Linked DNA regions of Homo sapiens. The protein of the gene in region 2 interacts with the protein of the main gene of each other region in a pairwise test. Each region holds a gene or a part of one and is shown on either strand. Other genes may lie near its edges. The genes, in order: DNAJA3 and INPP5J.

Region 1 (15,989 bases), on a different chromosome or scaffold from region 2:
TTGAGCTCAGGAAGAGACAGGCCATTCGCTCTTCACAGGCCAGGATCTCTGCTTCCTGTCCCCATGCCTCTGTTCATTCCATTACAACCCAATTAAAAAAAAAAGACAACCCAGTTAAAAGTGGGCAATGGATCCAAACACACGTTTCTCCAAAGACATACTAATAGCCAACATGCACAAGAAAGATGCTCACCATCATTAGTCATCAGGGAAAAAGCAAATCGAAACTCTAACGAGATAGCATTTCTTATTCACTAGGGTCGTAATTAAAAAGACAGACGATAATAGTTAAGTGTTCACTGGGATGTGGAGAAATCATGGCCCTCATATGCTGCTGGTGGGAATGTAAAATGGTGCAGCTGCTTTGAAAAAGGCTGGCAGCTTCTCAAAAGGTTAAACATCCAGTTACCATATGACTCAGCAACTATACTCCTAAATATCCAAGAGAACTGAAAACATGTCTACACAAAAACTTACATATGAATGTCTATATAGCAGCACTGTTCATGATAGCAAAAAGTGGAAAATATCCAAATGTCCATCAAACGATGAATAAACAAAATGTGATTAATCCATGCAACAGATTATTTGACCATAAAAAGGGATGAAGTATTGACACAAACTATAACACAGATGAACCCTGAAAACATTATGTGAATGAAAGAAGCCAAGACACACAAAAGGATACATATTGTATGATTCCCTGTATATGAATATTGAGAATAGGCAAATCCAAAGAGGCAGGACGCAGATTAGCAGCTGCTAGGGACCGGGGAGAGAGGACAATGGAAGGGGAGTGCTAATGAATACAGAGTTTCTTTTCGAGGTAATGAAAATGTCCTAAAGTTGACTGTGGTGACAGGTGCACAACTCCAGTGAACTGTGCACTTATAAAAAGCTGTCAATCCTACAATGGTGCCTCCAATATTGATTTTATTTTGTTGGTCAGAGCAAACCAAGGGTCTAGGAACCAGTGGTGTAGACATCTCGTATACAACTTTACTCAGCTACCCTAACTACCCTAATAGACCCTGGGATACAATGGGAATTTCACATTTTCCAGGTTAAGAAAGGGCCAGGCGCGGTGGCTCACGCCTGTAATCCCAGCACTTTGGGAGGCTGAGGCAGGTGGATCACCTGAGGTCAGGAGTTTAAGACCAGCCTGACCAACAAAGTGAAACCGCGTCTCTACTAAAAATACAAAAAAAATTAGCCGGGTGTGGTGGCAGGTGCCTATAGTCCCAGCTACTTGGGAGGCGGACACAGGAGAACTGCTTGAACCCAGGAGGCAGAGGTTGCAGTGAGCCAAGATTGCGCCACTGCACTCCAGCCTCAGCAATGGAGTGAGACTCCATCTCAAAAAAAAAAAAAAAAAAAAAAAAAAAAGAAAGGAAAGGAAGTAATTCTAAACCTCTAAACTTTTATCTGGATGCAAAAAATAACTACCTAAAACTTAGACTAGCATATCTACTGATTCAGAAAATACAGATTAAATTTAATTATGAAAACAGCTCTAGAAAAAAAAACTTCTTAAAATCTCTGGTTTGGACTCACCTCTTTTTTCTGAAGCACCAACCTCTACAGCATTGTGCATCGAAAAACAGTCTAGCAAAGTCCAGCTTTATCACACCCTTCTATACTATCAGCTCATGAGACCTATTCATATGGGCACATACGCTGTACTGATCAGGATCACATGGGATCAACAACATTCCTACTACAATTTGGTCACCAAAACCTGACTTCCATACAGACCTGATAATAGGCTTTCTTGATCTCTTTCTGGCTGGCATTTCGAGGCACTCCTAATATCTGATAATAATCTTCTTTGGCCAAAGGGGCACTCGTGTGGAAGGAGGCAGTACAAATGAAAGGGTTATGTTTTGTTCCTAAAAAGGAAAAAACAAAGAAAATCACTCTGGGAATGTTCTCAACAAAAGAAAACTGTGAGTACATGACCCACCAGGCTATATCTGTGAAGGAACAAACAAACTGATAAGGTTTGGCTGTGTCCCCACCCAGATCTCAACTAGAATTTTAGTTCCCATAATCCCCACGTGTCATGGGAGGGACCTGATGGGAGGTAACTGAATCACAGGAGCGGTTACCTCCATGCTGGTCTCGCGATAGTAAGTTCTCATGAGATCTGATAGTTTTATGAGGGGCTCACCCTTTTGCTCATTCTTCCTGCTGCCATGTTAAGAAGGATGTGTTTGCTTCCCCTTCCGCCACGATCGCTGAGGCCTCCCCAGCCGTGCTGAACTGTGAGTTAAATAAACCTCTTTCCTTTAAAATTTACCCAGTCTTAGGTATGTCTTTATTAGCTGCATGAGAACAGACTAATACACAGGCTACAGCTTTAGGGCTGTTCCCTAATGCACTTCAATAATGGCTAAGGAAGCCACAGTATTCAATTAATATTAAACTATGTCAGAGTATTGGATGAGGCTGATTCTCCTCGCTTATACTACTGGAGTGGTCTCAGTAAACCACTAAAGGAATAATACTCCTGACTGGGAGATGATTAAAAAGGGATTCAGCTCCCCCCTCTTATGCCACATGAGCACTTACCATTTGCTAGGTATTTTCATATTTTCATATTTTTCTGTCACATTTAATGCTTAACAACTCCCCACATTCTTTTCCCTCTATCTTGCAGCCTTGGGTATCTACTTAAGGAGCAGTTCTCAAGACTGCGCTCCCTGGACCAACAGCATCATTAGACTGATGAAAACACAGATGTTCAAGCCCTACTCCAGACATTCACCAGAAACTCAGGAGGTCTCCACCCACTAGATGCCAGTAGAGAACTCCCCGTCTCCAGGCATTGCCAAATGTCCCCTGGGAAGTAAAAGTGTCCCCTGCTGAGAACCAATGACAAATCAATCTAAGAAGGTCGGGGAAGAACTTCTAGGCATCAGCTGTTAAGCTGCAGAAACTGGCTAAGCTGCCCAGGAAAGCATTTGCCACTTTCAGTGGAAAACAAATGGCGGTTACTAACTAGGATGACTTTGTACTTTGGATCTGGATTCACAGCACCTTTTTTAATAGCAAGACACCAACTGCTTAAGAAACAAGGATGTTTTAGTTCATCCACTTAACAGATAGGAAGAGCAGGTTTTTTGTTTTTTGAGATGGAGTCTCGCTCTGTCGCCCAGGCTGGAGTGCAGTGGCGCCATCCTGGCTCACTGCAAGCTCCACTTCCCGGGTTCACGCCATTCTCCTGCCTCAGCCTCCCAAGTAGCTGGGACTACGGGCGCCTGCCACCACACTCGGCTAATTTTTTCATATTTTTAGTAGAGACGGGGTTTCGCCGTGTTAGCCAGGATGGTCTCGATCTCCTGACCTCATGATCCGCCTGCCTCGACCTCCCAAAGTGCTGGGATTACCGGCGTGAGCCACCGTGCCCGGCAGGCTTTTTGTTTCTTTGTTTTTTGAGACGGAGTTTCGCTCTTCTTGCCCAGACTGGCGTGCAGTGGTGCGATTTTGGCTCACTGCAACCTCCGCCTGCTGGGTTCAAGCGACTCTCCTGCCTCAGCCTCCCAAGTAACTGGGACTACAGGCGTGTGCCACCACGCCCAGACTGGAGGTGTTTTAATAGATGAAATCTGTTTAAAAAGTGAATAAGCCGGGCCGGGTATGGTGGCTCCTGCCTGTAATCCCAGCACTTTGGGAGGCCAAGGCGGGCGGATCACCTGAGGTCAGGAGTTAGAGACCAGCCTGACCAACATGGAGAAACCCCATCTCTACTAAAAATACAAAATTAGCCGGATGTGGTGGTACATGCCTGTAATCCCAGCTAGTAAGGAGGCTGAAGCAAGAGAATCGCTTGAACCTGGGGGGCAGAGGTTGCAGTGAGCCAAGATCGCGCCATTGCACTCCAGCCTGGGCAACAGGAGTGAAACTCCATCACAGAAAAAAAAAAGAAAAAAAAAAAGAAAGAAAAATAAGCCTGGGCACAGTGGCTCTCGCCTGTAATCCCAGCACTTTGGGAACCTGAGGCGTGAGGATCGCTTGAGCCCAGGAGTTCGAAACCAGCCTGGGCAACACAGAGACCCTGTCTCTATTAAAAATAAATAAATAAATGGATCAAAGACTTGAACTTATATGACATACTAGATGTTTGTAAATAAACTTATGACATGGAAAAAAAAGAGAGAGAGACAGAAATAGGCTAAAGAGGACTTTGAATCCATACAGATTTATACCTATAACTAAACTAGATGGCAGTGGTGGTAGTGGTGGTTAGAGATGATAACGATTAATGGGGCCTAGGAATAGGAAGGGCCTTAGAGCTATGCTAAGGAGTCTGGATTTTATCCTAAGAGCAATAGGGAGCCACTGCAAATGTTAAACAAAGAACCCATTAGGTTTGCATGAGAAACAACTCTAGGCCAGGCAAGGTGGCTCACGCCTATTGTAATCCCAGCACTTTGGGAGGCCGAGGCGGGTGGATCACTTGAGGTCAGGAGTTCGAGACCAAGCTGGCCAACATGGTGAAATCTTGTCTCTACTAAAAATACAAAAATTAGCCGGTCATGGTGGTGCACGCCTGTAATCCCAGCTACTTGGGAGGCTGAGGCATGAGAATTGTTTGAACCTGGGAGGCTGAGGTTGCAGTGAGCCAAGATCGCGCCATTGCACTCCAGCCTGGGCGACAGAGCAAGACTCCACCTGAAAAAAAAAAAAGAGAAACAACTCTAGGAAGCCTGGGAGACTACTCGAAGTTAATCAGCACAAAACACAACCAGAGGTTGGTTGAGCACATCCAAGTAGGAGGCCAGGTAAAGGATGATCAGACAGGAGAATGGATAGGAATGGTCAGGATACTTAAAATTAGAAATAGGAAATAAATCCGTGTGTTTGGCACACCCAATATCCTCGGGATACAAAAAGCACACTGGAAGTAGTAGGGGTCAGGAGACCACTTTGTGTTTCTTCAGTCAGACTTGAGAAAACACTAGACCTGACTTATTATTGAACTTGTACTCAACCCTCTTTTTATTTCGGAGTAAGGGGTTGCCCGGCCCAGTCCAGCCTCTCTCTCACCACTCATTCCAATGCCACAAGGCGGAGGCTGGTAGTGACCTGTGGCAGCTGTGGCTTCAACATTACGGGCAGAGAACACGGACAGGAGTTAGTACAGAGATAGTAACGCACAAAACTGCATGTGGATAAAGACAAATCACGTTTAATTACAAGACTGATGGCTTTGTTTTTTCTTTTTTTGAGACAGAGTCTCACTCTGTCACCCAGGCTGGAGTGCAGTGGTGTGATCTCGGTTCACTGCAACCTCCATCTCCCAGGTTCGAGCGATTCTTCTGCTTTAGCCTCTCAAGTAGCCAGGACTATAGGCGCACACCACCACACCTGGCTAATTTTTGTATTTTTAGTAGGTAAGAAGTTTCACCATGTTGGCCAGGCTGGTCTCGAACTCCTGACCTCAAGTGATCCGCCGGCCTCATCCTACCAAAGTGCTGGGGTTACAGGCATGAGCCACCATCCCCAGTCTGATGACTTTTGACATTATCCATAGGGCATCAATGATTAACAATAATTAGATTTCATTTAATAGACTATTTATTTTATCACATATGACCAGTAAATGTCCTGTCCTTTTTAGAACAACCCAGAATAAAATAAGCCTCCAAGTCGTTCTAAGAATGGCCAACCCACTGTCCAACAACTGCTTTCTTTTTTTTTTTTTTTGACAGGGAGTTTGGCTCTTGTTGCCCAGGCTGGAGGGCAGTGGCGCGATCTCGGCTCACTGCAACCTCTGCCTCCTGGGTTCAAGCGATTCTCCTGTCTCAGCCTCCCGAGTAGCTGGGATTACAGGAACCCGCCACCACGCCTGACCAACTTTTTCTATTTTTAGTAGAGACAAGCTTTGGCCATCTTGGCCAGGCTGGTCTCAAACTCCTGACCTCAGGCGATCAACCCACCTCCCAAAGTAATGGGATTGCAGGCATGAGCCACCATACCTGGCCACCAACAACTGCTTTCTTTCTGCTTGGAAGAAAAGTCACATCTAAAATGTTGTTATGTCATCTTACTACTAGATTTGAGACAAGATCACAGACTAGTGTTTGGACGCTGAGTTAATGACCTTTTCAAAATTTTTTTTTTTAAGAGACAGGGGTCTCATTATGTTGCCTAGGCCAAATTCAAATTCCTGGACTCCAGCAATCCTCCCACCTCAACCTCCTGAGTAGCTAGGACTATAGAGGCTCGCCACCACATGGCTTCTCAGTTGATGACTTTATTAATTTTTTGGTAGAGAAAGAGTCATACTCTGTTGCCCAGGCTGGAGTGCAGTGGCATCATCATGGCTCACTGCAGCCTCAACCTTCTGGGCTCAAGTGAAACTCCCACCTCAGCCTCCCAAGCAGCTGGGAGTACAGGCAGTTGCCACCATAGTTGGCTAATTTTTTTTTTTTTGAGACACAGTTTCGCTCTTGTTGATCAGGCTGGAGTGCAATGGCGCTAACTCGGCTCACGGCAACCTCCGACTTTCACGTTCAAGCAATTCTCCTGCCCCAGCCTCCCGAGTACCCGGGTTTACAGGCATGCGCCACCAGGCCTGGCTAATTTTGTATTTTTTGTAGAGACGGGGTTTCTCCATGTTGATCAGGCTGGTCTCAAACTCCTGACTTCAGGTGATCCGCCCGCATAGGCCTCCCAAAGTGCTGGGATTACAGGCGTGAGCCACCATGTCCGGCCACAGTCAGCTAATTTTTAAAAATCTTTTTGTAGGCCGGGCGCGGTGACTCACACCTGTAATCCCAGCACTTTAGGAGGCTGAGGTGGACAGATCATGGGTAAAGAGATCGAGACCATCCTGGCCAATATGGTGAAATCCAGTATCTGCTAAAAATACAAAAATTAACTGGGAGTGGTGGCACGTGCCTGTAGTCCCAGCTACTCAGGAGACTGAGGCAAGAGGATCACTTGAACCCAGGAAGCGGAGGATGCGGTGAGCCGAGATCACGGTGAGTCAAGATCATGGTGAGCCGAGATCGCACCACTGCACTCCAGCCTGGCTACAGAGCAAGACTCCGTCTCAAACAAACAAACAAAAAAAATCTTGGCCGGGCGCGGTGGCTCACACCTGTAATCCCAGCACTTTGGGAGGCGGAGGCGGGTGGATCACGAGGTCAGGAGATCGAGACGTCCTGGCTAACACAGTGAAACTCCATCTCTACTAAAAATACAAAAAATTAGCTGGGCGCGGTTGCAGGTGCCTGTAGTCCCAGCTACTCGGGAGGCTGAGGCAGGAGAATGGCCTGAACCCGGGAGGCGGAGTTTGCAGTGAGCCGAGATCGTGCCACTGCACTCCAGCCTGGGCGACAGAGTGAGACTCCGTCTCAAAAAAAAAAAAAAAAAAAAAAAATCTTTTTGTAGAGATGGGATCTGCCTATGTTGCCCAGGCTGGTCCCAAACTGCTAGGCTCATGTGATCCTCCTGCCTCAGCGCCAGCATAGCGCTGGAATTACAGTCGTGAGCCACCCCGCCCAACCAGTTGATGACTCTATCTGTGAAAACAGCACGTACCCTGAAGGATGCCACCTCTCACCTGTGTACACTACCTGATATAAAACTTGCCCATGGCAGGTTATGAGCTCACTTGGGGAACAAGACAGCTAACCGCAGTTCCTTAGTCACAGCTTCACACAAAGCTTAGTGTTTAGTGCCTGTTTCTCTCTTTCACATACACAATAATAACGAGTGCTCCCAAATTTGTACAGCTGGAACATGAACAAATTTGGCTTAATAAAACAAGTCACCTAAGGATTAATATTTGAATGAAAAGATGCAGCCAGATTCTATTTAAAACAACCTTGACATTAGAAAATGTTAGCAAGCTCTAAAAATGGCCACTTTTGCTCATGTTGAAAAATCTAGCCTGGCATGGTGGCACACACCTATAAGCCCAGCATCTTGGGAGGCTGAAGTGAGCCAGGATCACATCACTGCAATTTGGCCTGGGCAACAGAGCAAGAGTCCATCTCAAAATAAAAATAAGGCCGGTCGCGGTGGCTCAAGCCTGTAATTCCAGCACTTTGGGAGGCTGAGGCGGGTGGATCACAAGTTCAGGAGATCGAGACCATCTTGGCTAACACGGTGAAACCCTGTCTCTACTAAAAATACAAAAAATTAGCTGGGCGTGGTGGCGGGCGCCTGTAGTCCCAGCTACTCAGAAGGCTGAGGCAGGAGAATGGCGTGAACCCGGGAGGCGGAGCTTGCAGTGAGCTGAGATAGCGCCACTGCACTCCAGCCTGGGCAACACAGCGAGACTCCGTCTCAAAAAAAAAAAAAATTCATTCTGTTGGCCAGGTGCAGTGGCTGATGCCTGTAACCCCAGCACTTTGGGAAGCTGAAGCAAGGGAATCACTTTAGCCCAGCCTGGGTAACATGGTGAAACCCCATCTACAGAAAACTAGCTGGGTGTGGTGGTGCATGCCTGTAGTCCCAGCTACTCAGGAGGCTGAGGATGGAGGATCGATTGAACCTGGGAGGTCAAGGTTGCACTGAGTTGTAATTGTGCCTCTGCACCAGTCTGGGCAACAGGAGGCCCTGTCTTAAAAAATAATTAAATACATAAATAATCATTCTCTTAACCAAACACACATCCAATCTCTTTGTTCTCTGCCATCTCCTCAGTGCCCAGAACAGTGGCTGGCATACAATTGGCCTCAATTAACACCTGTGAATGAATGAATTTTCAGACAGGTGCTCGAAGGGGTTAAATAATACACCCCGCTCACAGACGCTGGGGAAGTTCACCCCTGAAGCCCAGGCTCTTTTCTTTACATTGCATGAAGTAACCACAATTACTGATACTTTAATGATTGTCTACTATGTAACTATTACAAACTGGATTGCAACAGGAAGTTAGTTGGTATAAATTATCTTGTCAGGGCCCTTTAATTAATCTTTATAAATTTATAGATAGCTTAAATACCATTTGCACAAATTCTAGAGGACACAAAACTAGCACAATTCAGGTACGTACAACACACAGCACAAAACACACGGCATAAGAAAAGAAGGCTAAGCAGGGCACGGTGGTTCACGCCTGTAATCCCAGCACTTTGGGAAGCCAAGGGGAGGCGGATCACCTGAGGTCTGGAGTTTGAGACCAGCCTGGCCAACATGGCGAAATCCCGTCTCTATTAAAGATACAAAAATTGGCCAGGCGTGGTGGCGCATGCCTCTAGTTCCAGCTACTGGGGAGGCTGAGGCAGGATAATCTCTTGAACCCAGGAGTCGGAGGTTGCAGTGAGTCGAGATTGAGCCACTGCACTCCGGCCTGGGCAACAGAGCAAGATTCAGTTTCAAAAAAAAAAAGAAAAGAAAAGAAAAGAAAACATGACTAAGCACTTCAAGGCTTAATGTATAATTCAGTGTCATCTCAGGCAATGATATCAAGCCTCCACCTCCTTGTGACATTTATAAGTGGTTTAACATCTAAGCCTCAGTATCTTTATAAAATGGAATAACAGTGCCTATCATGTGGAAATGTGATGTAAGGGGAAAACCATGCCTGGCCAACAGTAAGTGCTCAATAAATGTCTGACTGTGTTATTATTACAATCACCAACTAAAGACTTCTAAAAAGATTGTTAACTGTGCCCTTCAATTAGCACCACGTGGTAGAAAGAGCGTAAACTATGACATGACTGCTTTGGGTTTGAGACAACTCTTCTAGTCTAACTCCATGACCTTGGGCTGGTCGATTCCTCCGTTGAATCTCAGTTTCTCATTCTTTAAAATGGTGATGACGGCAGGCATCTTGCAGGGTTGTTGTAACAAAGTACCTAGGCCTCTCCGAATGGCAGTTAGCTCTTCCCTTCCGCTACGGGCTAGAAGGTGGAGAGATGGGAAAGGAAGAGGACGAGGGAGCAGCGGCCTCCAGAAATGTTGACAGAGAGGTGAAGGTTCACGATCTACGGGGCGTTTCATCACCGCCGCCGGGGGCTCCACGCTTCTCTCCCTTCCTTGACGGCTGAGCAGCCACTGGGGCCTCCCCGCCTCCTGCCTGTCTGTGTCTCCGGCAATTGTGCATCCGCGTCGGAAGACACCCTCCACCCCACTACCCCTGCAGCCGTAGTCACAGCGAGGAGACTCACTCTTTTCTAGGCCCTGAAACCGCCACTCGGAAGTTGGAACCTGCCCTCACCTGTAAGGCTGACACCAGGTCTCAATGTCAGCAGCGCTCGGGGGCCGCAAGAGGTCAGGGAAGACGCAAAGGCGGGGACGCTCAGCTTGCGGCTCAGCCATGCCCCCACCACGCCCTCCCTGGGCGGCCGGGCCCCTCTACCCGATATAGCCGGCAGCCGCGGGGTCCCCACAACCACCAGCAACCAGCGTGTGGAGCACCGCGCAGCCATCTTGGCCCGGGGACTCTGCGCCTGCGCCGCCCGGCTCTAGGTGGGCCTCGCGGGAACGGCGGGCGCGCGTAGAGGCGCATGCGTCGCGCACGCGCAGGCGCACCGTACGCGTAGCCGCAGCCAACGCGCCTTCCGGGTAGCCATCGCCGAAACGGGGTTTGCTCTGAAGAGTGTTGTTAGGTAGACTCGCCGTGCAGAACCTCGCTATTCTGTGCTAGACAACCAATGGGTGTACGTTATCGGTGTAAGGACGTGGTTGAATGTAGCCGAACTTAAGTGGTCCGAGGGGTCTGGCTAAGGGCGAGACTACAAGTCCCAGCATACAACGCGGTCCTCCGTCGCGCCGCTCCCAGCATGTAGTGCGTGGTTTCCTCCTGCTGACCCTGAGACTTACGACGAATTGCGTGAGTTTTACTCATGCCGTCTCCGCGCGCTTCTAGTAAATCTTCGTCGCCACCCTCAGAATCCTGGCCGCAGTCTCACTGTCTCTTAGGCTGATTCCCCACCCGCCTCCTCTAACAAGACTCAGTTCTCCTTTTTTTCTTTTTTTTTTTTTTGACAGAGAGTCTCGCTCTGTCGCCAGGCTGGAGTGCAGTGGCGCGATCTCAACTCACTGCAACCTCCTCCTCCCGGGTTCAAGCAATTCTCTGCCTCAGTCTCCCGAGTAGCAGGGATTACAGGCGCGCGCCACCGCGCCCGGCTAATTTTTTTGTATTTTTAGTAGAGACGGGGTTTCACCATCTTGGCCAGGCTGGGTCTTGAACTCCTGACCTCGTGATCCACCCGTCTCGGCCTCCCAGAGTGCTGGGATTACAGGCGAGAGCCACCGCGCCGACCTCAGCTCTCTCCTTAAGCGTGTTAGCCTTCTCCAAACCTGCAGTGAACTTGCTGGTTCCGAATGGGAGCCGTGCTGCCCAAAAACTAAATTAGTAAAACTTGTGAGCGCCTACTGTGTGTCATGCATGTTCTAGAATATCGGGGATACAGTGATGCCTGATACACCATCCCTGTTCGGGAGGAGCAAACAATGACTCGAGAGAGGCTCCTTAGCAACTAACAATGTTAAATGCTATCACAGGAATAAGCACTGTTACAGTCATACAAGGTGAAGGAGTCATTCCATTTCTAAAATGGGAGAGAGGAAGTTTGGGATGTCAGGGCTTCTAAGAGGTAAGATTCAAACTGAACATCGATGAAAAGTGTGTCAGGTAGGGATGGAGTATTCCAAGTAGCCTGAACTTAAGAAACAAATGTCTAAGATATGAAAGTGTTTGCCTTCTTTGCTTAAACCCTAAATTTAAGAGTATGTGATGAGGCCGGTCGCGGTGACTCACGCCTGTAATTCCAGCATTTTGGGAGGCCGAGGTGCCGGCGGATCACGAGGTCAGGAGTGCCAGACCAGCCTGGCCAACATGGTGAAACCCCGTCTCTACGAAAAATACAAAAATTAGCCAGTCATGGTAGCACGCACCTGTAATCCCAGCTCCTCGGGAGGCTGAGGCAGGAGACTCGCTTGAACCCAGGAGGCGGAGGTTGCAGTGAGCCAAGATCGCGCCACTGCACTCCAGCCTGGGCAAGAGAAACTCCATCTCAAAAAAAAAAAAAAAAAGAAAAGAAGTGGTGGCCGGGCGCAGTGGCTCACGCCTGTAATCCCAGCACTTTGGGAGGCCGAGGCGGGCGGATCACCTGAGGTCCGGAGTTCGAGACCAGCCTGACCAACATGGAGAAACCCCGTCTCTACTAAAAATACAAAATTAGCCGGGCGTGGTGGCGCATGCCTGTAATCCCAGCTACTCCGGAGGCTGAGGCAGGAGAATGGCTTGAACCCGGAAGGTGGAGGTTGCAGTGAGCCGAGATCACGCCATTGCACTCCAGCCTGGGCAAAAAGAGCGAAACTCTGTCTCAAAAAAAAAAAGTATGTGATGAGATGAGGCTAGGAAGGGAGACCTGACCTGGTTAGTCTTGCAAAGGACTTTCAATTTTCACACTCCCACCATCATAACCACCTCAAGCAATGGGGAAAAAACCTGAGGATTCTTGTTTGGATTTAAAACAAACTGTGCTCATAAATCTTCACCCCCATCCCCAAAGCCTGGGAATCTGTGCTACTCCCCCTCCCCGCTACTCCCAGCATTGTACACCAAATTTTTGTGTACGTGGATGTTAATTTGGGTAGATACCCATAGCTTTCGTCAAATTCTCCACAGGCATTGAGACTCGAAGATTAAAAACCACCGGTCCTGCCAGGCACGGTGGCTCACGCCTGTAATCCCAGCACTCTGGGAGGCTGAGGCAGGCGGATCACCTAAGGTCAGCAGTTCGAGACTAGCCTGACCAACATGGAGAAACCCTGTCTCTACTAAAAATACAAAATTAGCTGGATGTGGTGGCGCATGCCTGTAATCCCAGCTACTCGGGAAGCTGAGGCAGGAGAATTGCTTGAACCCAGGAGGCGGAGGTTGCGGTGAGCCGAGATCGCGCCATTGCACTCCAGCCTGGGCAACAAGAGTGAAACTCCCTCTCAAAAAAAAATAATAATAATAAATAAATAAATAAAACCACCAGTCCTTTGAAGAACAGTGACCAAGCTATTGTAAATTGCAAGTAATAGTTGGAGAGAGTTTGGGCTACGGAATGGGGAGGACTGAGATGAACAAGGGTGTTGGGAGGTGAGCAAGAGTTCCTTTAATACATTCAGCAAATACTTAAATGACCAGCATAGTGATGAAGAGTATGGGTTCTGGGCCAGGCACAATGGCTCACGCCTGTAATCCCAGCACTCTGGGAGGCTGAGGCGGGCGGATCACCTGAGGTCAGGAGTTCAAGACCAGCCTGGCCAACACGATGAAACCCTGTCTCTACTAAAAATACAAAAATTAGCCGGGAATGGTGGCAGGCGCCTGTAATCCCAGCTACTCGGGAGGCTGAGGCAGGAGAATTGCTTGAACCCGGGAGGCGGAGGTTGCAGTGAGCTGAGATAGTGCCACTGTACTCCAGCCTGGGTGACAGAGTGAGACTTTGTCTCAAAAAAAAAAGATACGGGTTCTGACTGGGCGCGGTGGCTCATGCCTGTAATCCCAGCGCTCTGGGAGGCCGAGGAGGGCAGATCACAGCGTCAGGAGTTCAAGACCAGTCTGGCCAACATAGTTAAACCCCGTCTCTACTAAAAATACAAAAATTAGCCAGGTATGGTGGCACATGCCTGTATTTCCAGCTACTGGGGAGGCTGAGGCAGGAAAATCGCTTGAACCCAGAAGGCAGAGGTTGCAGTGAACCAAGATCGCGCCACTGCACTCCAGCCTGGGCAACAAGATCAAAACTCCGTCTCAAACAAAAAAAGAGTATGGGTTCTGTGGCCAGGCGCGGTGGCTCACACCTGTAATCCTAGCATTTTGGGAGGCTGAGGCGGGCGGATCACCTGAGGTCAGGTGTTGGAGACTAGCCTGGCCAACATGGAGAAACCTCGTCTCTACTGAAAATACAAAAGTTAGCCGGGCGTGATGGTAGGCGCCTATAATCCCAGCTACTCGGGAGGCTGAGGCAGGAGAATTGCTTGAATCAAGGAGATGGAGGTTGCAGTGAGCCAAGATTGCGGCACTGCACTCCAGCCTGGGCGACAGAGTGAGGCTCTGTCTCAAAAATAAAGAGAAAAAGAGTATGGGTTCTGTGCTAGGCATGGTGGCTCATGCCTGTCAATCCCTGCACCTTGGGAGGCCAAGGCAGGAGAATCACTTGGGCCCAGAAGTTCAAGACCAGCCTTGGCAACATAGCAAGACCTCATCTTTACAAAAAAAAATTTTTTAATTGGCCGGGCATGGTGGCGCATGCTTGTGGTCCCAGTTATTTGGGAGGCCAAGGTGGGAGGACCACTTCAGTCCAGGAGTTCAAGTCTACAGTGAGCTATGATAGTGCCACTGCATTGCAGCCTGAGCAACAGAGCAAGACACTTTCTCAAAAAAAAAAAAAAAAAAAAAAAAAAAAAGAGTATAGCTCTGGAGTCAGACAGCCTGGGATTGAATTCTAGCTGTGCCACTTACCAGCTGTGTGTCCTTGGGCAACTTACTTCACTCTGTTCTTCTGTTTCCTTTTCTCTAGAATGGGGACATAGGCCAGGCACGGTGGCTCACACCTGTAATCCCAGCATTTTGAGAGGCTGAGGTGGGAGGATTGCTTGAGTCTGGGAGGCTGAGGCTGCAATGGGCCATGATTGTGCCACCGCACTCCAGCCTGGGTGACAAATGGAGACCATATGTCAAATAAATAAATGAGGACTTAATAGTAACGACGTCGGCCAGGCGTGGTGGCTCACGCCTGTAATCTCAGCACTTTGGGAGGCCGAGGTGGGGGGATCACCTGAGGTTCAAGAGCAGCCTGGCCAACATGGTGAAACCCCATCTGTACTAAAGAGTACAAAAATTGCCGGGTGTGGTGGCTCACGCCTGTAATCCTAGCACTTTGGGAGGCCGAGGCAGGTGGATCACCTGAGGTCAGGAGTTCAAGACCAGCCTGGGCCACTTGGTGAAACCCTGTCACTACAAAAATACAAAAATGAGCCGGGCACAGCGGCACGTGCCTATAATCCCAGCTACTTTGGAGGCTGAGGCATGGGAATCACTTGAACCCAGGGGGTGGAGGCTGCAGTGAGCTGAGATTGCACCACTGCACTCCAGCCTGGGCAACAGTGAGACTCTTCCTCAAAAAAAAAAAAAAAAAAAATTTCACCAGGCGTGGTGGCGCGCACCTGTAGTCCCAGTTACTGGGGAGACTGAGGCAGGAGAATCACTTGAACCTGGGAGGCGGAGGTTGCAGTGAGCCGAGATCACGCCACTGCATTCCAGCCTGCACAACACAGCAAGACTCTGTCTCAAAATAAAGCAAAACAAAAAATAGTAATGTCCTCAAAGGGTCATCTGAGTGACATAATCATGTAAAGGCTTCCTATAGTACTTGATGCGTAGCCATTGCTCAATCTGTGTTGGCCCCATGTGCCAGGCTGTACTAAGCACTGAGGATACTAAGAACTCAGACAGAGTTACTTACTCACGGGGAGCCCAAAACTTAGGAGAAATGGGGGTTGGGGGGATGCTGCTGGTTGAGAAGAACAACTTTCAAGTATAGAAGCTGAAAACAAGAGCCAAAAGGACTTCCATTTACTACCTCAGAGTGAGTTAGGAACTAGAGGAGAGCTCAGTAATATGAAAACTGTCACCGTTGTAACTTCCCCCCCTTTTTTTCTTTGTATTTTCGTTTATCCCCCATCTAGTTCCCCATAGTGATGAACAGTAAAAATCCTCCACGTTGAAATGGTGTGTGTGTTCTTGTTTTCAGGGATAGCAGGAAGGCTGATTGTTGGGGAGCCAGTATTTTCTATTATGAAGCAGAGAACTCTTAAGGAGTGGAGTGGATGATGGTAATTACCAAAAGAGAGGACAAAGTCCTTGGGATCTGCCACACAGAAGAAAGAAAAACATGGGAAAGACTCCCAGCTGAGAGCAGCCTGGGCCTATGCCTGGTCTCTTTTTGGTTAGACTTTATTATTATTTATTTTTGAGACAGTGTTTTGCTCTTGTTGTCCAGGCTGGAGTGCAATGGCACGAT
Region 2 (15,989 bases):
TGCTGCTGGCCAACTCCGAGGAAGGCAGCGAGATCTGGGGGAAATGCTGGTCACTGGGGCGCCCTGCTCCCCAACCCAGCCACTGAGGCCTGACCTCCCGAGGTCTGCCTCTCTCGTTGGCAGATCTTGGGAGGTCAGGTTATTTGTCTGAACTCAAGGAGCAGAATGTAGAGGCTGTGGCATTTGACAAAAGTCTTTAGGCACCCCCAGCCCAGCAGTCTGGCCTACTTACCTGGAAGGGTTCAGTGATGCCGATGAGGATGCTGTGGTTGTGACTATAGTAGCCCAGGATGAAGTCTCCATGGCCCTTGGGCAGTGATTCCTCACTGAATGTTACCTGGTAGGCCCAGGGGTATAAGCCTAAGTTGGGGGTCAGGGAGGCCACCTGAGAGCCCCCAAGGTGAGTTCTGAGGTCCCAAAGGCAACAAGGACTTGCCCTGACTCTCCCACTCCTTTTAAGTACCTGGTAGGTATTCCCATCCACATCTTCATGTTTGGCCCAGACATAAGCCACATAGTCCTTGCAATGGCGGAAACCCACCTGGGGGATCAGTGTTGTGGAATCAGTGTTGTGACCCTATAATGTCTGATCCCAGCAGTCTCCCAGTGTGGCATCAAGATCTGGACAAGCCAGTGACCCCACCATGCTGTTCAGCTGCTCCTCCAGGCCCCTTTCTTCCCTGAGTCGCTGACCACCACTGCCCCTCTCACCCGGTATAAGCCGATCCAGTCCCAGGAGCTGCGGGCGAACACTGTTTCCATGCGGTACCTCACCACCGCCTGCTCGGGCCGCACCCACTCATCTGCCACCTCCAGCCGCACCAGTGGCATGTCGTCCCTGAAGGCAAACTGTCCAGGCAAGGCAGGGGCAGGGGGCCACATCAGGGGAGACCCTCTAGTATCCCACACACTTAAGGCTCTTGGGTCTTAGCACAAATTGCCTGAGACAAAGGGCCACTTTACAGACTGGGAAACTGAGGCAGAACAGGTCTAGTATAAATACCAAGCCCTGTGCTGCCTCCCAGCCCAGGGTTCCTTCTGCCCACAGCCTCCTTAGGGAGTGAGTGAGAACATAGCTTTGAAGCTAGCAAATCCTGGATTTGGCTCTGGTTCTGCCGTTGACAGGCTGGGTGAGTTCCTCAGCCTCTCTGAATGCCAGGGCCCTCATCTGTAAACTCAGAGACTCTTTTTTTTTTTTTTCTTTTTCTGAGATGGAGTCTCGCTCTGTCACCCAGGCTGGAGTGCAGTGGTGCAATCTCGGCTCACTGCAACCTCCACCTCCCGGGTTCAAGTGATTCTCCTGTCTCAGCCTCCCCAGTAGCTGAGACCACAGGTACCGCCATCACGCCTGGCTAATTTTTGTATTTTTAGTAGAGGCAGCGTTTCACCATGTTGGCCAGGCTGTTCTTGAACTCCTGACCTCAAATGATCCACCCACCTCAGCCTCCCAAAGTGCTGGGATTATAGGCATGAGCCACCGTGCCCGGCCAAACTCAGAGACTCTTATTTTACTCTTGGAGTTGTTCAGCAGATTCAGTGAGACACCATTTGCAAAGCATCCCATAAATTTCCCAGTATACCAGTAAGTGCTCAATAAATGATTTGTCTCTATGCTAGCAAGGAAGACCAATAAAATCCTATGATGCACTGGGTATTTGGGGTAAGCTGAATATTCCTGAGCAGGCAAGAAGAGCTCTGCGTGGGAGGATGGAGACCTCAGTCCACTTCCAGGCTCTACTGCTAACTCGCTATGTTACCCCAGGGCAGGCTCTAACCATCCCAAGGTTCAGTTTCTCCAACTGAGTCTAAGTACTAAGCGGTTACTAACTATTACCTTGTCATCAGTCCATGAAGGAAAGTTATAACCACGAGTATCCTTTCCCCAAGGTCAACCCAGACCCACCAGGGGCGCCACCTGAATGGGTGGAGCTGCTGAGGTGGCAGGCTGCCAGGATATTGACCCCACCTCTGTCCCTCAGGGAAGGACTGAGTTGTTGCCAACACCAGATCTTTGTCTGATCCCCTGTTTACCTAGTTTCAGGTTTCCCTCCCTCAGCTTCCGAGCCAATCTGTTCCAGAAGTAACTGGCACATTCTTTCCCTGTTCCTGTGTTCCTAACAGCAGGGGCGGGCAAGGGTAGACCTTTGAAAATGCCCTCCAAGGCCTTGCAGCATCAAAACCCCTACTGAGCCCTATTCTGACTGCATTGCCTTGGCTAAGAGACTTAAGTTCTCTGAGCCTCAGTTTCCCTCACCAGTAAAACAGAGAGGAAAACTGGGACATCTCAGGGCCTACTGAGGCATTCAAAAGGATGACATATGTAAAGTGCACTACACAGGCCTGGCATGTAGTAGGTACTCAATGGGAATTTTTTTTTTTTTTTTGAGACAGAGTCTCGCTCTGTAGCCCAGGCTGGAGTGCAGTGGTGCCATCTCAACTCACTGCAACCTCCGCCTCCCGGGTTCAAGCAATTCCTCTACCTCAGCCTCCCGAGTAGCTAGGACTACAGGTGCGCACCACCACACCCAGGTAATTTTTGTATTTTTAGTAGAGAGAGGGTTTCACTGTGTTGGCCAGGCTGGTCTCGAACTCCTGACCTAGTGATCCGTCTGCCTCAGCCTCCCAAAGTGCTGGGATTACAGGCGTGAGCCACTGCACCTGGTTGGGAAATGTTTTTAAAGGGACAGAGTCCTGGAGGAGGTGGGAAGGACAGGATGGGGTGTCAAAAGGAGTGATTTTTCAGGTGAGGTCCCTAATTGTGGGTTAAATCTTCATGCCCAACACTTTTGCCAGAGGTCATGGCAGGCCAAGCGTGGGGATATTTCCATTCCCAGCTAAAGATATTGGCCAATGTCCCACTGACTGGCCATGTGACAAAGTTACCAGGAAAAACATTTTCTGGCCTGCTGGGCTCCCTCTTATCAGATCAAGAGACTTGAAGAGCCCAGAGTTGGGTTTCAGGGCTGAAAAGATGGGATCTACCCTGCTCTGCCACTGCAGAGCCTGTGTATGGTTTGGGGCATGTGCCTACCCCATGAGGAGCCTCAGATCCCGCCACAGAAAAAAAGGGAGTGGGCCAAATTGGTCTCACAGGTCTGGTTCTGAGATTCTAGGATTTCCCATTTTGATGTCGGCAACCAGGAACCTCAATCCTAAATACAATATAAATTATAGTAACTACTTAAGAGTTCAGCTTTGTATTTTTTATATCTTTGCTCTCCCTCCCCATCACTACACACTCTCATAATGCTTGGCATATGGTAAGACAGTTAAGTACTCAGTAAATAACGAATGAATGAATATGAATGAATGTTACATGGAGTTTGATTTTGCTGGTCTTATTATATATGTGAATTTTTATATCTTTTCTTTGTTATTTTTAAGACACTAGTAGTGAAAATGATGATGCATATGTGAATTTTTTTTTTTTTTTGAGACAAGGTCTTGCTCTGTTGCCTGGGCTGGAGTGCAGTGGTACGATCACAGCTCACAGCAGACTAGATCTTCCAAGCTCCAGTGATCTTCCCACCTCAGCCTCATAAATAGCTGGGAATACAGGTGTGCACCACCTAGCTAAATTTTATTTTTATTTTTATTTTTTCCCTGAGACACAGTCTTGCTCATGTCACCCAGGCTGGAGTGCAGTGGCACGATACTGGCTCACTGCAACCTCTGCCTCCCAGGTTCAAGTGATTCTTGTGCCTCAGCCTCCCAAGCAACTGGGATTACAGGCATGCACCACTGCGCCAGGCTAATTTTTGTATTTTTAGTAGAGATGGGTTTCGCCATGTTGGCCAGGCTGGTCTCAAACTCCTGGCCTCATGTGATCCGCCCACATCAGCCTCCCAAAGTGCTGGGATTACAGGCGTGAGCCACTGCGCTCGGCCTTTTTTTGATTTTTTTTAAAGACAGTGTCTCACTGTGTTGCTCAGGCCGGTCTTAAACTCCTGAGCTGAAGTGATCCTTCCACCTCAGCCTCTCAAAGTGTTGAGATTACAGGTGTGAGCCACTGCGCCAGCCTATAAATGAATTTTAAGATAAATTACTCTAAACCTTTCTCAGAAGACAGGAGTTAGAGATTAGCAGAAAAGGCACGGGCTCTAAGGCTGGGTGTGGTGGCTCACACCTTGTAATCCCAGCACTTTGGGAGGCCGAGGTGGGCAGATCACCGGAGGTCAGGAGTTCGAGACCAGCCTGGCCAACATGGCAAAACCCCATCTCTACTAAATACAAAAATTAGCCAGGCGTGGTGGCGGGCAGCTGTAATCCCAGTTACTCAGGAGGCTGAGGCAGGAGAATCACTTGAACCCAGGAGGTAGAGGTTGCAGTGAGCCGAGACCACGCCACTGCACTCCAGCCTGGGCAACAGAGTGAGACTGCATTAAAAAAAAAAAAAAAAAAAAAGGGCGCCGGGCACAGTGGCTCATGCCTGTAATCTTAGCACTTTGGGAGGCTGAGGTGGGTGGATCACCTGAGGTCAGCAGTTCAAGACCAGCCTGGCCAACACGGTGAAACCCTGTCTCTACTAAAATACAAAAATTAGCCGGGCATGACGGCGGGTGCCTGTAATCCCAGCTACTTGGGAGGCTGAGACGGGAGAATCGCTTGGACCCAGGAGATGGTGGTTGCAGTGAGCCAAGATTGTGCCACTGCACTCCAGCCTGGGGCGGCTGAGCAAGACTCCGTCTCAAAGAAAAAAAAAAAAAAAAAAAAAGTTGGCCAGACACGGTAGCTCACGCCTGTAATCCCAGCACTTTGGGAGGCCAAGGTGGGTGGATCAGGAGGTCAGGAGTTCAAGACCAGCCTGGCCAACATGGTGAAACCCTGTCTCCACTAAAAATACAAAAATTAGCCTGGCGTGGTGGCGGGTGATGTAATCCCAGCTACTCAGGAGGCTGAGGCAGGAGAATCACTTGAACCCGGGAGGCGGAGCTTGCAGTGAGCTAAGATCGTGCCACTGCACTCCAGCCTGGGTGACAGAATGAGACTCTGTCTCAAAAAAAAAAAAAAAAAAAAAAAGAAAAGGCATGGGCTCTGAAACCAGACTCACTTGGGTTCAAATCCTAACTGTTCCTCTTACTAGTTGGGTGACCCTGGGCAGGTGATGCCATGTGTCTGAGCCTCAGCTTCCTCATCTGAAAATGTAGATTGCAACCCCATTTCCACTGTTACAACAAATGGATGCTGCTGAGGGCAGGTACAAGGGGTTATACAAAGGGTAATGGTGAGGGGCAGTGGTATGCCGAGTTGGGCCTGGGGATTTCATGCGGGGAGGATGAGGCCAGAACTCACCTGCAGGAGGAACTGGGCAGCCACAGGCTTGTGGTCGCTGACTGTGTATTCCATGTGGCTGCGGTAGCTGTGCTGCGTCACCTGGAGTCGGTGGCTCTTCCGTCCTGAGGGGCTGGGACCCCCACCTGGAGCCTTGACCTTCCATAGGATACGGTCTGTCCAAGCTGGCTTCCGTTTCTTGGCACTGCAGTGAGCAGGGGTACCCCAAGTTTCAGGGGCTGGGGATCAAGATGTAACCCTCCACCTTGCCTCCTGCCCCTCTTCCCAAAGTCTCCCTGTTCGAGAAGACCTCAGCCCACTTCCCCTCAGTCCCTCCTCGGACTGAGCTCACCTGGTATCGTATTTGTTGGTACCCACATCAAACTTGAAGGTGGGAGCGAAGTTGAGGGGCCCCTCCTGAAAGCCCTTCAGAATGGGCCAGGTGTTCTTGGCCATGTTGAGCTGTGGGGGGTCCAGGAGAGCAGATTGGACAACAGCTTGGGCTCTGCTGTGCCCAGGGAGGGGGTGGGGCAGGTGAGGACAGGGACCATAGTCTAAGGTACAGGCGTGTCCTGGGACATGCTCTGTGTGCTTCTGGGGACAAGGACCCCACCTGGTCCTTCTCCCAGAGCTGATGGAGCTGGTCACTGTCGATGGCAAACTTGACAAAGTGCAGGTCATAGCTCTCAATGCGGAAGTTCAGGTCCCCGAACCAGAACACGAGGCTGTTTGGGGTGGGGGATGGGAGAGATGTGGGGGGCAGTGGGGGGTGTCAACAGGTCCATGGAGGATAAGGGCTCAGCCCAGATCCTTCCAGCCCATCCAACCCGAGGGGATGTAGTGAGTGGGTGAGTGGTGCCAGAGCCTCCAGCCCACCAAAGGGCAGAGGAAAAGCAGAGGGACCGGTCTACAGGAAATTAGGTTCTGACCTTCAGCAAGGCGGGGCCCCTCAGCAAAGCTCCACCCTACAAGCTCCGCCCCTCCCCATCCAACTGCTCTCTGCTTTCGTGTTCCTACAACTAGTTTGGGTGGGCACTAAACCCCATAGGCCCTGCCTCTCTCCATAAGCCCCACCCAAGGTGGTACAAAAACCCCCATCACTAGCCCCACCCAAGCTCTATTTGGCCCCACCCCAGCCCATACTCATGATCCAGGATGCCCTGTGCGCCCGGCCCTTGGAACTGCTGGAGGCTGAGGATGGTCTGGAAGTTGTCTTTGCGCTGCTCCGCCTTGTCCATATGCGCAGGCAAGTGGCAGTTCAGGAAGCAGAGCATGTGCCCGAAGGCCGCCAGGCGCACGCTCACGCCACCCTTGTTACCCTAGGGAGGCAGGGTCGGATGGCTCATGGGCGGGGCTTAGGCCAGGAGGTGAGGCACTGGGAGCGGGGGTTAGAGAGGAGATGTGGGTGGAAGGTGGGTGGGTCCTACAGAAATGAGGAACAACGCTGGGACACAGTGGGGAGAGAAAAGGGCGGGGGTATAGAGGAATAGGATGGGGTATTGGGTGGTGCATGGGGGGGCTGGGCCGCAGGGTAAAGGGTGGAGGATGGGAAGGGGACCTTGCTGTGCATGGGGCGGGGGGACTAATCTAAAGCCCCCTTCATGTCCCATCCTCTTCTGGGCCTGCTCACAGGCTCACCCAGTAGCCGCCCAGGCCAGTGCGCGTGCAGTCGGTCTGCACGTCTCGCAGGAAGGGCAGGTGGTAGTACTTGGCGAACAGCAGCAGGATGACACCCTGCATCCTCACCGAACTCACCTGCAGCGGGAGGCCACGTGGCTGGGGGACAGAACACAACTCCCCCGCCCTCGCGCCCACCTTCAGGTCTGCTCCTCCACCCACCCATGTCACGGACCCAGCCACAGAGGCCCAGCGGGCCCCACAGTGAGCCAGGGTACAGCTGGAGCCAGGAATTCAGCAGGGTCTCTGGCTGTCCAGGGGGTGAGGGGTGCGTTACCAGCACGAAGTTGAAGGGCCCTAGCGCATCCATGAACAGCTCACTCCACTGGTCCGTGAAGAGGGCGTCCTTGAGTCGCTTGTTGAGCATGGAGTTCACTTCCTGCAACCTGGAGGGGTGGGGGCAGGGTGGCCATGGGATTGGAGAGGTGCCCTGGAAGCCCCTGCCATGGGTGGAGGGCCCGGAAGGCCCGAGGGGCTCAGGAGGGGGTCCACATGCCCTGCCACCTCACCCTATGGCGATCATGTCTGCGCCGTCGCTGTCGTCACCACCGCCCAGGTGGAGGAGGGATGTGACATCGTCTGGGGGCATGGCAGTGCCCACGTTCCATGTGACCACAGTGATCCTGAGGGCAGGGGCATATGAGGGTGTAGTCCTGGCACCACTCCCTCACCCTCAAGCTTCCTTTCACAGGACTCCCTGGGGAACTAAATGGAGGCAGGTGTGGGCCAAAGCCCTAAGAAGGACCCACAGGAGGCCCCGAATCCTGTCCCTCTGCCACACTCTCCCTGGGGAGATCAACTGAGAGGCGGCAAGTTCCTTAGGAGGGGATGCTATCTTCTGAGCGTCACAGAGTGGGCCCAGCAACCCCCTCCCCAAAGACTCTTCCTCAGAGAGAGAAGCTGAGGTAGAGCACACCATCCACCCTGGAAGAATGGCTAACCTCAGAGCTAAGCCCCAGCCACCTTTCTTGGGAGAGGGCCCCCTCACCGGAAGCCGGGGTCGCTCTTCCAGGTAGGCTGAGCTGACCAAGGGGAGGATGACAGGGTGGATGTAGAAGAGGAGGTGGTGACTGGGGCTGGGGCTTCTTGGGCCTGAAGGTTGGGGCTCAGGCACCTGCCAGGCCCTGTACTCTGTGTGCCAAGCCTTGGGAGGGCCATGTCAGGGGCTGGGGGAACACAGGGAGAGCGATTCGGGGAGTGGCTTGGGGAACGGCTGGGTGATCGGGGTGGCTTGGGCAGAGGTGGGGGCACAGTCTGGCCTGAGGGGGCCCCAGGCCGGAAGGTGGGGGACAGAAGTCCAGGGGAGTGAGTGCCAGGCTCTGAAGGACCCTGGCCCACATCCAAGGGCAAGGTCTGGGGTGGCCGTGGCAAAACAGGATCCTCAGGGCTGCTGTGGAGGGCCTCAGGCCGGGCTCGGAAGGAGGGGGAGAGCCGAGGGTCTGGGGAGGTTTGGATGCAGGGTGGGGAGCCTGTAGGACCAGATGTCTGAGCTGGAGGCTGGAGATGCCCCTCAGAAGCAGGGAGAGGTCTAGGGGCTGGGGCATCCCTCTTTCTAGCTGATGTCTGTCCCACAGAGGCTGCGCCTGATGCCGTGGATGCTGGAGCCAGGGCCTGTTCCTGAGTTGGAGACAGAACTGGACTGGGCACCGGGGAAGGGGTGGAGGGGAGTTCTGGGGGCTGCTCCTCAGAAGCCAGGGCCAGGCTCAGGCCAGAGGCTGCCAGTGTTGGCTTGGGTCCCACGGAGGCAGGTGGCTCCTGCTTCTGGTCTCTGGAGGTTGGGGCCAGATTGGGCCCCAGGGTGACTGGGGGAGATCTTGGCCCTGCTGAGGCAGGCATCACCAGCCCCAGGGACGTCGGAGCCAGAACTGAGCCTGTGGTCGCTGGGGGAGGCTTTGGTCCAGCTGAGGCAGACATCACCAGCTGGCCCACAGATGTTGGGGCCAGGCTGGAGCTGCGGTGGGCAGTAGCTGTTTTCTGCCCTTCAGGGGTACACAGTGGAGCCAGGATTGGTCGGGGAGATGCCAGAGCCAGCCTCGGTCCTTCCGAGGAAGCTGACATAGCTGCCCGTGGCCCTACAGGTGCCAGAGCCAACCTTGGTTCCGAGGGTCCTAGGGCTGCGTTCTTCTTTGCTGGGAGCTGAAAACTTGAGTCCACCTTGTGGAGGACAAGTCAAAGATTCAGAGTGACCCTAACCAGGGCATTGGGCCCCAACTTCCATATAGACCCTGGCAGAGTTCATCTAGCTAAGAAAGGCACATCTTTCCAAGGAAGTTCTTCCTACTATCTCACTTCAATCTATTCTGCTGCAGGTCAACTTCTGTCTTGGAGGAGATAGGACACAAAACCCTAACCCCTCCTTTAAGTCTGAAACCTCTTTCACAGATGGGGAAACTCAGACCCTGACTCAAATGAGGCAGAGTGTGAACCTAAACCTGAGGACTTGCCTTGCCTTCCTGGCTGGCACCCACACCCTGCCCATTCGGGGCAGCTTCCCTGGGCAACCCTCCCACTGCAGTCCCTGAAGCTCCCCCAGCCACGGCTACTGACCTGACATCCCAGGTCTGGGCACACTGGGGACAGCCTGTTTCTTTTCTTTTTCTATTGTCAAGATACAGACCTACAGGTGCAGCTTGTTAAATACCTCTCCCTTCCTTCATAATGCCCAGAAACCCTCAGTTCCCCACCGCCCCCTAAACATCCAAATCCCTTGGTTACAGCCCTCTCTGTTCTCTTACCCATTCCCAGAGCTCCACTCAGGAGCAAGAGCTGGGAGCTGAGACTGGCTGTGTAGATTCAAAGCCCAGCTCTGTGTGACCTTAGGCAAGTACCTCTCTGCCCAGCGCCTCAGTTTCTCTGTCTGTAAAATGAAGGGATGGGGTCTAGGGTTCCTGGCCACATTATATTCTGGGGAATCTTCATCTCCCATTGTCTGCATTTATGAGCCCAACATTTGCTAGAATTCCATCTAGCCCCGTTGAATAGTCCATCCTCACCAAGTGTGAATCTAGCATTCAGAGCAAGTCCAGGATTCTAAGTTGATCCTGGTGTCACATCTCTCTGTGCCCAGGTTGTGCCCTCTTACATCCTCCACTTTCTCCCCTACCTGAAAGGACAGGCAAGCAGGTATCCCATTTATGTCCGGCAGGTGGGAGGGGTGGGGAGTCACGGAGTCCTGTAGAGACCTATCCTCCTTCCCCATCTATTCTCTCTGATGTCCCCTGTCTCCAGAAGACAGGATAAAGTGTCCTTCACCAAGGAGGGCAGAAGAATGTCTATACTTGCCCCAGGATGGCCCTAGGTAGGGTAACAGGGCGCAGGGAGGCCCTGCCTCTGGAGACGCACTTCTGTTTCTGTCCCGTATCCTTCTCAGTTCAGAGTACCTAAAACTCCATCTCCACCTCCCTTCTCAAACTCAGTTCTTTGAGGTGGCATTTTAGGCACCCTCCTTGGCTCCAAGTGTCACACTGTGTGCCGGCTTCCCCCCAACTATCACACCGCCTCCAGTACTAACAACTTAGCCATCCCAGATGTCACAGTTTTAGTCTTCAGCGACAAGCCCCCTCATTTTGCATTGGCTCAGAGAGGAAAAGCAACTTGGCCAAGGTCACACAGCAAAGGTGGAGCACAGCTGGGTCCTCTGATACCCAGTCCAGGACTCTCCCAAGGGCTCCTGGAGATGGCTAACTTCATCTGTCTCCGGGCATCCTGTCACTGCCCCTCAGCCCCCAGGGTGCTCTCTTCACCTAGCCCCTGCTCGCTGAGCAGAGGAAAGTACCAGCCCCTCAGTCAGGAGCACCAGGGAGCCTGCAGTGTATGTGGGGGGGGTGTGTGGAACCAGGGATCAGGAAAGCGGGGGGCACTGGGTCTCAGGGGTCTTACCTTGGAGGGTGCCCCAGTTTGGGCAACACCCTGGGGCATGGGCAGGGAACCCAGGCCAGCCCGGGTCCCTGGCCTCCTGCTGCCCCTGCTGCTCTGGCCCTCCATGTCTGCAGCCCCCGGCAGCCTGGACTCCCTTGGCTCCGGCTCCAGCTCTACCGCTCCCGGGAACCAGTGATGTCATCAGCCATTTCAACCTGCTGAGAATTTAAAGGCACAGGCTCCCACTTCCCAGCCTGGAAGAGGCCGAAGCAAGGTGGCTACCCCCTGGGAATCCTTCAAACTGGCTGCTGAGGCTGGAACAGCCATGGAGTGGGGAGGGGAGAGTGTACCCATCTGCCTGGCCCAGGTCCCAACTGGCAGCAGGAAGGAGGCTGTCTGTCTACCTTCACCTTTCTGCCGTAGGCCTGGTCAGCCCTTTGCTCCAGGGAGGGGCATTAACACACCTGCCTTAAGGTAGGACAGGTGGTTCAGAGGTCTGCACCCTCTCCAGGGCCTCAGAGACAACTGAGTTCTTGCCCTGATCCTGTGACCTTCCTGGCTCCCTGCCAGCTCAGAGCTTGCCCCGGCCCCCACCCTTGCCCCATTTTCAGGTCTTGGTGCCACCCTCTCCACTCCTACTGCCAGTCCCAGGCTCTATTCTTCCCAACCCAGAACCAGACACTCAGGCTCCAGCCACTGCAGTCTTTTCCCATCTCAGGCCTCAGCACCAGCCCCTCCTCTTCTGCAGACACCTAGCTGCCCTCAGATGTCCCCACAGCCAGGCCTAACCCAGCCCGGCTTCTGTCAGCTTTCTTCTCTCCAGTATTCACTGGGTGTGGTTTGGGAGGGGAACTTGCTCAAGGTCACCTGGTGAACTGAGAAGGTCTCCTGTGTTTCAGTGAGAAAACTTAGTGACCTAGGATGAGCACAAGCCCTTCGAGCTATCTGGGGGAAGGGAACTTGGGTGGAGAAGGGCCCAGCAGTGGGGTAACAGACTGACAAGAGAGTTACAAACAGGCCTGAGAATTGCTACAGCCAGGACCCAGCCCAGGACATGGTCCCCAACAGGCCTACGGGAGTGTTTGTTGAATGAATAAATGAATTAGAAGAGTGAATGGGTGATGAGGGTCAGATTGGGCTGGGATGGCTGTGGGATCTGTTTCTCATGGCTTAGAGAGGAGTGATCCCACCCACTTTAGGCAGAAAGTGTTCAGAGTTGTGTGTGCAGAGCTCCCTGTTAACCAACATGGAGCATCTGCATGGGCCTGTGCAGTCTCCTACATGAAGGCAGATGCCTCACTTTCCTCTCCTGAAGGCACTTCCTACCTCTGCTTGACTGTCAGTAGGTCTAGTCTGTATTCTCAGGCCAGCATCTCTGCTGGAATTTGCAGGGGCAGAGACTCAGGCCATATTAGAGTGTTGGGGTAGAAAGGTCTTTGGACAGCGATAGTGGAGATGGTGACAGTGGTGACGGGGAAGGCGACTGTGGTGATGGATGTGATGATGTATGTAACTGTGATGATGGAAGTAGGGGGCTAGCAGTGGTTGTGGTGAAGGTGGTGGAGGTGATGGTGATGGCAAAGGTAGAGGTGATGATGATACCAATACTGATGATGGTGTTGTGTCAATGAAAGAGGTAGTGTTGGAGTTGGAGGTGACAGTCAGGGAGGATGTGAGAGTAGACCTGGTGGTGATGCTCAGGTTACCAGAAAAAGGAAGATTCGAACTCATCCTGTCTTATCCTCTGTCTCCTGTTTTACAAATAAGAAAATGGGAGCCCCCGGGCTGGGGGAGTACTGGCAAAGTGCGGGTAATCCCAGCACTTTGGGAGGCTGAGGTGGGCAGATCACCTGAGGTCAGGAGTTCGAGACCAGCCTGGTCAACATGGCGAAACCCCATCTCCACTAAAAATATAAAAATGAGCCGGGTGTGGTGGTACATGCCTGTAGTCTCAGCGACTTGGGAGGCTGAGACAGGAGAATTGTTTGAACCTGGGAGGTGGAGGTGGAGGTTGCAATGAGCCAAGATCGTACCACTGCACTCCAGCCTGGGTGACAGAGAGAGGCCCTGTCTCAAAAAAAAAAAAAAAAAGAAAGAAAGAAAAGAAAAAAGAAAAAGAAAATGGGAGCCCCCAAGACTACCCAGCTTTTCATGCAATCCTAGAGGGAATGATGGGCAGATCCAGGCCTCTGGGACCAGTCCTAAGGCTCAGCCATCTAGGGCTGGGACAGGGGCATCAGTGCCCTTTGGAAGCCAGGCAAATGTCATGCAAATGTGTCTGCAGAGGGCTCCTCTGCCTCAGGAGGGCAACCCAGGATTTCCCACCACCCGCTCCCTGAGCTCAGACCCTGCAGGGGACTTTGTTTCTGGCCCTGCCACTGACTTACTTGAGGAGGTCACTCTGATTCCCAATTTGTGTAAGGGAGATTAAAACAGCAGACACCTCCTAAGTTTGCTGGTGAAGATTCAACAGGATAATATATATGAAATGTTTAGCATAGAGCCTGCCTGGCACAGCAAGCTCTCCATAAAGGTGGCTGCTCTGTATTTATCATCATCATCATCACCACCATTGACTTCAGCCTGCCCATGTGGTGGATGCTGAAACAGGCTGAGGGTGGTTACTCTCCTGGGAGGACAAGGAAGGGGCTCTGAGACCCAAGCCTGGTCTTGTCAGGAGAAGGGGGTAGGGGGCGGACCCCAGCTGAAAAGGGAGTGAGTTGGAGCTATATTTGAGCTCCTGGTGTGATGACTAAGGAGGTTGATAACAGGCTCTGGGGCTCAGGGCGGCAGGCTGGGGGCAGCTGTCAGGGAGAACCGCCCCCCTGGAGACGGCTGTCTCTGGAGGCCCTTTCTGGCTCCCTCCTTGCCCTCACTCTTGGTGGGGGAGGGGGGTGGGCGTACTGAGGCAGGGTCCAGGGCTCATCCAGCCCACTCCTGGAAACTCAGTGCTGTCCTTCAGGCTGTGTGGGTCAGGGATAGGAAGGCAGGATGCCAGTGATAGATGGAGTATCCCAGTTACTCTCCATAGTAACCCTGTGAGGTTGGTAATGAGGCCCCCATTGGACAGAGGAAGAAACCGAGGCCCAGGGATTACACAGCCAGTAGAGAGAGGACAGAGCATGGAGCTCCTGGAGAGGCAGTGGATAATTCTTCCCGACAGAGGAGCTGACTGTTGAACCCCTTCTTTGAAGGAGAGTCCGTGCTGCCAAATCGAAGAAGAGAAACGCCCTGGCTGGAAAGCAGAGAGAACAGCAGGTACAAAGCATGGATGGGGAAGGAAGGTTCTGGCTGTGAAAGGATGAGAAATTTGGACATGTACCCTCCTGCCCTTTGGTTCGGAGTAAACATGAGCAGGGAAGGGAGAGAAGTCTTTCCTGTCTTTTTCCTCCTCCTCTTCCTCGGTTCACTTTCCAGGGGCACCTGAGGATGGCAACGGTACCGAGGGTCTGTCCTCCTTCCTTTCTCTCCCTGGTCACCCTGACCCAGGCCCGCCATGAGGGAGGTCATGCTATGGCTACCATCTGCAAAGGTGTAGAGGGTGATACAGGATATTGTGGGAATGTGAAAGAAGGGGTTATCTGGGAGGGCTTCCCTGAGGAGGAAGTATACAGGGCACAAAAGAGCATTTCTTCTCCCAAGGCTTCACTCCAGGGTTTCTTGTTGGTAACAAGCTTCACATGTTATGTCCCCAGCACTTCATTCTCACCCTCTGAGGCAGATGTCATCCTCACTCCCCATTCTGCCACTCAGGAAATGGGCTGGAGGAGGAGGAGTGACTTTCCCAAGGTCACACAGCTGGGGCTGAGCTCAGGCCTCTCTCCTCCTTCTCTTCGGCTCCCCCTCCTCCTAGGCAGCCCAGCACCCGCTGTCAGCTGCTCTGAAGTGAGTGGCTATTTTTATTCTGGTGCGAGGGGATCTCAAGCAGCAGAGCCATGTAGGTTAGAGGCTCTAGGACACCCGGCCTCAGCAGTCCAGGGGAAACTTCCTGCAGCCACCAGACCCTGCTAAGCTTGCCTGGGGGCTCTCATTTCTTGCAGACTGACTTGCTCTGGGCTCCTATGCCTCCAGAAGCTTCTTTATTGGAGCTCAGAACAGAGCATAGAGCCAGATTAAGCCCTGGTCATGGTCCTGATCCTCCAACTTGAACCCGACTCTTGGTATTGACTAAGCCTCTACTCCAGCTCTTGACTGAGCTCTGACATCACCTTAGAATGAACCCTGACTCTAGTCACATACTGATCTAAGCCTGAATTAGGCTGATCCCAACTTGAGACCTTAGTTCTGGGCCCAGATCAAGCCCTTATCCTTCTCTAAGACTGAGCCTTAGTCACAGACTGAATTCTAGCCCCAGCCCAGACTAACCTTTTAGACTGACTCTGGCAGAAGAGTCAGACTAACCTTTTAACCCTGACTCTGGCAGAAGACTGAGCCCTAATCTTGGTCAAAGACTGAGTCCTGAGCCTAATCATTGACTGAACTCTGACCACAGACTGAATTCTGACCCTGGATCATGCAATTCTGGTCACACACTGAGCCCTAAACGGAAGACTGTGCCCTGAATCTGGTCACAGACTGAGCCCTGAACTTAGTCATTGACAGAGACATGACCCTGGTCACAGACTGAGCCTGGCTCCTGGTCACAGACTAAAGACTAAGCCCAATCATGGACTGAGCCCTGTATCTAGCCCTAGGCTACAGACTACTCAACTAAGGGCTGACCTAGACCCTGTCTGAGCCTGACCCCATCACAGACTAATCCCCAACCTTGGCCCCACTTGAGGAAGACTGCTGGCCTAAATTACATGCTGCCACATAAGAGGCATGGATTATGGGCAGAGATCTGTCTTGGGAGATCTTGGGCTTCTCATGCTGCTGATGCCACAGTGTTCCTTCCTGGTACTGTTATGGTCACAGTCTCCACCACTGGTTCCACTGGCTGGTTGGTCAACCCTCAGCAGCCCAAGCTGTGGCCTTTAGGGGCCACAGCATCCAGGCTAATGCAATGAGAGTGGTTTGGTGGCATCTGTCCAGCAAACAACCAGGGCCCATGGGGTACTGGGGTTTGGCTCTGTCAGCAGCAAGAACGACTCCGTGGGGCCTCTGGCTTCAGTTACTCTGAGGCCCTTGCTGGGGTAGGGGTTGGAGTAGAAGGAAATAGTGGGGTATGTCCCATTATTTTC

The links.
Region 1: the proteins of INPP5J (region 2) and DNAJA3 interact in binary tests that used the Homo sapiens proteins (3 or more experiments, as listed by UniProt).

What each region holds. Positions count from the first base shown.
Region 1 is NC_000016.10:4,420,284-4,436,272, reverse strand, and holds the start of DNAJA3 (dnaJ homolog subfamily A member 3, mitochondrial), read right to left. Parts: upstream 10,406-15,989; 5' UTR 10,392-10,405; coding exon 10,181-10,391; intron 1,890-10,180; coding exon 1,756-1,889; intron 1-1,755. UniProt on the Homo sapiens protein: Modulates apoptotic signal transduction or effector structures within the mitochondrial matrix. Affect cytochrome C release from the mitochondria and caspase 3 activation, but not caspase 8 activation.
Region 2 is NC_000022.11:31,117,958-31,133,946, reverse strand, and holds the start of INPP5J (phosphatidylinositol 4,5-bisphosphate 5-phosphatase A), read right to left. Parts: upstream 10,982-15,989; 5' UTR 10,933-10,981; coding exon 10,828-10,932; intron 10,052-10,827; exon of another isoform or gene 9,942-10,051; intron 9,806-9,941; exon of another isoform or gene 9,684-9,805; intron 9,103-9,683; coding exon 7,937-9,102; intron 7,654-7,936; exon of another isoform or gene 7,572-7,653; coding exon 7,458-7,571; intron 7,335-7,457; coding exon 7,226-7,334; intron 7,027-7,225; coding exon 6,910-7,026; intron 6,591-6,909; coding exon 6,415-6,590; intron 6,173-6,414; exon of another isoform or gene 5,997-6,172; coding exon 5,885-5,996; intron 5,734-5,884; coding exon 5,624-5,733; intron 5,477-5,623; coding exon 5,293-5,476; intron 850-5,292; coding exon 712-849; intron 542-711; coding exon 464-541; intron 338-463; coding exon 233-337; intron 35-232; coding exon 1-34. UniProt on the Homo sapiens protein: Inositol 5-phosphatase, which converts inositol 1,4,5-trisphosphate to inositol 1,4-bisphosphate.